2 linked regions of the Homo sapiens genome follow. The gene in region 1 interacts genetically with each later gene. Each region holds a gene or a part of one and is shown on either strand. Other genes may lie near its edges.

Region 1 (2,347 bases):
TTCTTTATGCCTACCGCTGTGTCCTAGGCCCTCATCAGGCAAGTGACAGTACAGGTTGCATGGCTAACCCCAGCCTTTTGTACACCCAGCCTAGATTTCCCTTAGCCTAGTGCATTTCTCCCTGCTTCTCTTCCTTCCTGTTGGTTGTGGGTATCACGCTTGACAACATAGTCTTGAATTGAAACTGGCCTGAATTGTGGAAGGGTTAAGTGTAATGGAATTAAGTTTGGAAACAAACCAATTTAGGTTTGAATTGTGATTCTACCACTTCATCTTGACTGCCTCGCCAAGCCTCAAATTTCCTTGTTTGTCAAATGGAAACAAGCCTCAGGGTGGTAATATTAAATGAGATAATGTTTGTGAAAATTGGCCCTTAGTTTCTTGCTCTCAGTGAATGCAACAGATATGTTTCTGATGCTTCTCTGTCATCAAGGATCCCCCAGAAGAGGCAGAACTGCTGCTACAGAACCTGCAAAGTAGAGGTCCCAGAGACTGCGTGGTGCTCATGGCTGCAGCTGGGCACTTTGCTGGTGCTATATTTCAAGGGTGAGAGGGTGCTGCATGGGGGTAAGGATGGAGTGGATCCTGTTAGCCAGGGAGCACCAGCTGGTCTCCAGTACTGAGTCTGTGCTGTCTACAGAAGAGAAGTGGTGACACACAAAACTTTTCACCGCTATACGGTTCGGGCCAAGCGGGGCACAGCCCAGGGGCTTCGGGATGCCCGAGGTGGGCCATCACACTCTGCTGGAGCCAACCTGAGGCGCTACAATGAAGCCACACTATATAAGGTGAGTTAAGCCTTTTAGATCTGGTGGTACTGATCCATACTTTTTTTGCATCTCTGTTCAACTCACTGTTAAGTAGGGAGGTTTTTGACTCATATCCTTCCAATTTTCATTATAGGTAGACAAAGGTAGATGAGGGATTCCCCAGGAGCCTTAGTCCTCTATTCTTTCTCCGTGTTATCCTCTACTTTCCACCCCTTGCACTTCTGTGGGCCATTTTTTTTAGTTGGAGATTTATAAATAGCAAGTGAAGGTATGCAGGACTGAGTTACTCTCTTCTCTAGGATGTTCGTGACCTGCTGGCAGGGCCAAGCTGGGCTAAGGCGCTGGAGGAGGCTGGTACAATACTGTTGCGTGCTCCCCGCTCTGGCCGGTCTTTGTTCTTTGGAGGCAAGGGAGCACCCCTGCAAAGGGGGGATCCCCGACTTTGGGATATCCCCCTCGCCACCCGCAGACCCACCTTCCAAGAGCTACAGCGTGTGCTCCATAAGCTGACCACTTTGCATGTCTATGGTGAGCCTTTGCTCCAGATCCCAATTCCCTAGACCTTCCTGTTCTCTCCAACCTAAGCCTCCATTCTCATTGGTATATCCAGAGGATTTTCTAAGCCTTGGACTGCAGCCCAGCTACATCTGCATTGAGAGAAACCTGCGCTAGCTTCTCCTCAGCTAAGGTTGAGAAAGATCTTTTCTTTTATGGCAGAAGAAGACCCTCGGGAAGCAGTCAGACTGCACTCACCTCAGACACACTGGAAAACAGTAAGAGAGGAGAGAAAGAAGCCTACTGAGGAAGAAATAAGAAAGATCTGCAGGGATGAAAAGGAAGCGCTGGGGCAGAATGAGGAATCTCCCAAACAGGGTTTGATTACTATCTGGCAACTGTCAGATCTGAGTTTCTGTCCTAAAAATGCACTGGCAAATTCCCTACTCTCATAACTGACCCATTTCCTTATTTAAACACACACCCACAGTGTCTATCTTAGCAATTACTGAGACATGTTTAGTGACCTTTCCAAATCTATTATCTCTTTTGTTATGGATGTTTCCCCAGAGCTAAGAAAATCTTTGTGTGGAGCAGATGCGTGGATGTGTTGCATGGATCTCACATAGTTTATCTTTGATTGGATGCTGTGGTTTGAGGCTGAGGGCTGCTTCCATGCTTTCCTCTATTGTGCGGCACCCTAAGGCTACTCATACGGAGAGTCCAGGGACTTGTTCTTGTCTGGGCTGAGAGCCTCATTTCTGCATGTGATATAATGGACTCAGCTCTTGATGTGCTACTTTTATCTGGGTGACAAAATAAAAACAATTTCATTTCAGGCTTTCATTCTTATGCATCTGCTTCTACCCTCTGAGTACTCCCTAGATGGATTTCACATGTCAGGTTTTTCCCTAGGTTCAGGGTCGGAGGGAGAAGATGGCTTTCAGGTAGAGTTGGAGCTAGTGGAGTTGACTGTGGGGACTCTGGATCTTTGTGAGTCTGAAGTATTGCCCAAGCGGAGGAGGAGAAAAAGGAATAAGAAGGAGAAAAGCCGAGACCAGGAGGCTGGGGCACATCGGACT
Region 2 (3,484 bases), on another chromosome or scaffold:
GTTGTTCTGTGTTTTCACTTAATGTTAACATTTTTCTAGTTGCTCAACACTTTTAAAGTCAAGTTAATGACTGAGATTTTCTCAAATGAGTACAGAGTAGTTTATCCTAATCATTTTCTTTTTTGGAGATTTTTACGTTTTTGCCTTTTCCAGTTAAAAATGTCTGCAAGGGATGTTAGCATATCTTGGTTCAAAGTCCATGTACATATTCAAATCTCTTAGTACCTACTTCCAGTAGAATTGGCTGGTCTAACATAACCCATCATAAACCTTTGTGATCACAACCAGTTGTACCATAACCATGTCATTTGCAGATAAGGCAACTCAGCCCGGGATTGTGGGATTATTTGTCCATTGTCACCTAGCGGATTAGAATCAGCTGGGAATGGATCTCATGTCCCTTTAATGCCTTGCCTGCTGAACCCTGAGTGGAACCCTGGCCCTTTGCTCTTGGTTTAACTTTCACAGGAGTGCATATAGGTGGTTGAGTTGTGGCATGTTTCTCTAGACTTACTCTTAAGTTCTACCCTGCTTCAGGGATAACTCATAGTCTTGGATGGAGGAAGAATGGTGTTGGCACACATGGAGAGGTAGTATTTATAAGCTATTTCGATAGTATTTATAAGCTATTTCGAGGGGCTCTCTTGGCAATGATATTCCAAAGTATACTTCTGATCTTCAGATCACTGGGCATCAGAGCATATTTGTTTATTTTTCAGACTGGTATTGCTCGAGTTCCACTTGCTGGAGCTGCCGGGGGCCCAGGGATCGGCAGGGCTGCTGGCAGAGGAATCCCAGCTGGGGTTCCCATGCCCCAGGCTCCTGCAGGACTTGCTGGGCCAGTCCGTGGGGTTGGCGGGCCATCCCAACAGGTGAGGAGTTGGGGAAAGGGTACCACCTCCTGGTGGCTAAAATAAAGGATAAAGGGGAGGGTCCATAGTTTTAAAAGGGTCCAGAGTGACCAACCTGTGATTGTCAGACTATCAGTGTTTCACTGTGGTTTATACATGGCCCTAGAAGCAAGTGAAAAGGATAAGTTGCCATTGTAAATTATGTTGATGCTATTAAAGAGATGTACGAATTAGCCAACTGTATTTAAGGAAAATATTTCCATGACAGCATTTGAAATCATGAGTCATATTTGAAAATGCAGTTGCCTTCTCTCACTTGGATTGGACATGCTTACATTCAGGTCTAGAAGATGGGAGTTGGGCATTCAAGCTTGATCTTTCCCGACATGTGGTTTTGGATGGGAAGTCTGGTGCTGAGAGTTGTAGCATTAAGGGATTTGGTGTCTGTTATTTCCCACTGTCCTTCCCCAAGTTGGGGAGGAGAGTGGGAAGCTGCATTGTACTGTACTCTTCTAACTCTTTCTTCTTATGTCCTCTTAGGTGATGACCCCACAAGGAAGAGGTACTGTTGCAGCCGCTGCAGCTGCTGCCACAGCCAGTATTGCCGGGGCTCCAACCCAGTACCCACCTGGCCGTGGGGGTCCTCCCCCACCTATGGGCCGAGGAGCACCCCCTCCAGGTGAGGAGCCCATAAGGAGACCAGTGCTAATTGATAGAAGATGCCTTAGCTGGATTAATGATGAGATATAACCTTGACTGAAGCTGATGATGAGTTTGTATAATTAAGCAGGATTACTCTGAGATCCAGCGTGGCTGACTGATGAGACTAGGTGGACAAGAGCCATTGGGAGCCCTGGGTGTTAGGCTCAAATGTCAGTTTTCTGGGAGCTGCTGAGAGGGTGGAATGGTCCATCTATCTCAGAACTTGGTGGAAAGCTTTGTAGTTTTTTTGCTACCTTTTCAAGATAGACACTTGAGCTATATTCTTGGGGCTTTTCTCTTGCAGGCATGATGGGCCCACCTCCTGGTATGAGACCTCCTATGGGTCCCCCAATGGGGATCCCCCCTGGAAGAGGGACTCCAATGGGCATGCCCCCTCCGGGAATGCGGCCTCCTCCCCCTGGGATGCGAGGTAAGTGCCTGCAGTGGTGACTTTGGCTTCTTTCCCTAGAGCCTAGTGGGATAGGAAATGGAGGGAAGATTGCATTTAGATCATATCCCATGGGCTTTCAAGCCTTAAATCTAGGGAAATCCAGAAAGGAAAGAGAAGAGGGAACATTTCTTAAATTGGGCTTACCTCCCCTCTTAGAAAAGTTAGAGCAGCCATGCACCCAGGGTGTTTCTCAATATCTAAGGCAGCGGCCTCAGGACACAATGAAATAATGCATTCTGAGGATCCCTAACAGAAGTTATGAGATTGTCTTATGCTCTTTGGTTTGACAGTGCCTAGTAATTAAGAGGGGGCTCTGGGCTTTGCTGTACTATTATGGATTTCTCTTTAACTTCAGTTGGAGAAATTCTGAGATCAGTCCCCACATGGATGAGAAAATAGGCCCCCAGGGAGTTTGGACTCCAAGCCCAGTGTTCTTTCCCTATAAGATAACCCATGGGCAAACTTGGTGACCCCTGTTTCTCTAGTCTGGATTATTCCTCTATGGGTTTTTATAGACATAGGAACCCAGTCAGCCTCAGAGTAGTCCCTAGTTAGCACATATGCCATGTATACCCCTCTCCTCACTCGATTACTGCAGGGCGTGGGAGGCTGGGGCAGGGTTGGGGATTCAAGTTGCAGATCAGGCACTGACTAAACTTCTTACTCTTACTTCAGGCCTTCTTTGACCCTTGGCCACAGAGTATGGAAGTAGCTCCGCAGAGGCGTGGGCTCGATTCCTCAGGGCCACGTTACCACAGACCTGTTTGTTTCTTATGCTGTTGTTCGTGGAGTCTCATGGGATTGTCTGGTTTCCCTTACAGGGCCCCCTCCCCCGGGAATGCGCCCACCAAGGCCCTAGACTCATCTTGGCCCTCCTCAGCTCCCTGCCTGTTTCCCGTAAGGCTGTACATAGTCCTTTTATCTCCTTGTGGCCTATGAAACTGGTTTATAATAAACTCTTAAGAGAACATTATAATTGCACCTATGGATCTTTATTTTTAGAAAAATCTTTGATATATTGGGTGCTTAATAGAGTCAAGAAGGGTTGCCTTGGAAAAAATTAACCCTGATCTTACCTTCTTCCCTATAAAATGTTTTACTACCCATTTGCATCTGTACATCCTCATACACTAAGATACTTACAAAATTGAACATTTTCACTTATCAGATTCAAAGATCAGTTTTGTTGAAATCAGTACCCATAATATCCTCTTGGGAAGGCACTTGTCTAGATAGCTTCTCCATGAAGCAAATGCTAAAAATGAAAATTCTGCTGGGAGAGGAACAATTTTGGCATAACTTTCTGCCAGGGTCACACACGTAACATATAACCTAACGTAACTTTTGAATTGTGGTATCTTCATGAGTTCTTCCACCCAAAGCCTGTGTTCACTGAGCAGCACTCTAGTACTTAGTGCATCAAGCTCTAAGGGTACAAAAATAAGGTGAACACTGTTGTAAAGTTACTGTGTAGGGGGAA

What was found. Genes that interact genetically often act in the same process or in processes that back each other up.
Region 2: changes in ANKZF1 (region 1) and SNRPB together harm fitness less than expected from each alone (positive genetic interaction), as found in Homo sapiens cells (one large-scale study listed by BioGRID).

The regions. Positions count from the first base shown.
Region 1 is NC_000002.12:219,232,646-219,234,992, forward strand, and holds part of ANKZF1 (tRNA endonuclease ANKZF1), read left to right. Parts: coding exon 1-38; intron 39-433; coding exon 434-546; intron 547-640; coding exon 641-788; intron 789-1,069; coding exon 1,070-1,298; intron 1,299-1,487; coding exon 1,488-1,643; intron 1,644-2,180; coding exon 2,181-2,347. UniProt on the Homo sapiens protein: Endonuclease that cleaves polypeptidyl-tRNAs downstream of the ribosome-associated quality control (RQC) pathway to release incompletely synthesized polypeptides for degradation.
Region 2 is NC_000020.11:2,461,135-2,464,618, reverse strand, and holds the end of SNRPB (small nuclear ribonucleoprotein-associated proteins B and B'), read left to right. Parts: intron 1-719; coding exon 720-872; intron 873-1,391; coding exon 1,392-1,530; intron 1,531-1,571; exon of another isoform or gene 1,572-1,667; intron 1,668-1,857; coding exon 1,858-1,983; intron 1,984-2,679; coding exon 2,680-2,690; 3' UTR 2,691-2,825; coding exon of another isoform or gene 2,826-2,863; 3' UTR 2,864-2,977; downstream 2,978-3,484. UniProt on the Homo sapiens protein: Plays a role in pre-mRNA splicing as a core component of the spliceosomal U1, U2, U4 and U5 small nuclear ribonucleoproteins (snRNPs), the building blocks of the spliceosome.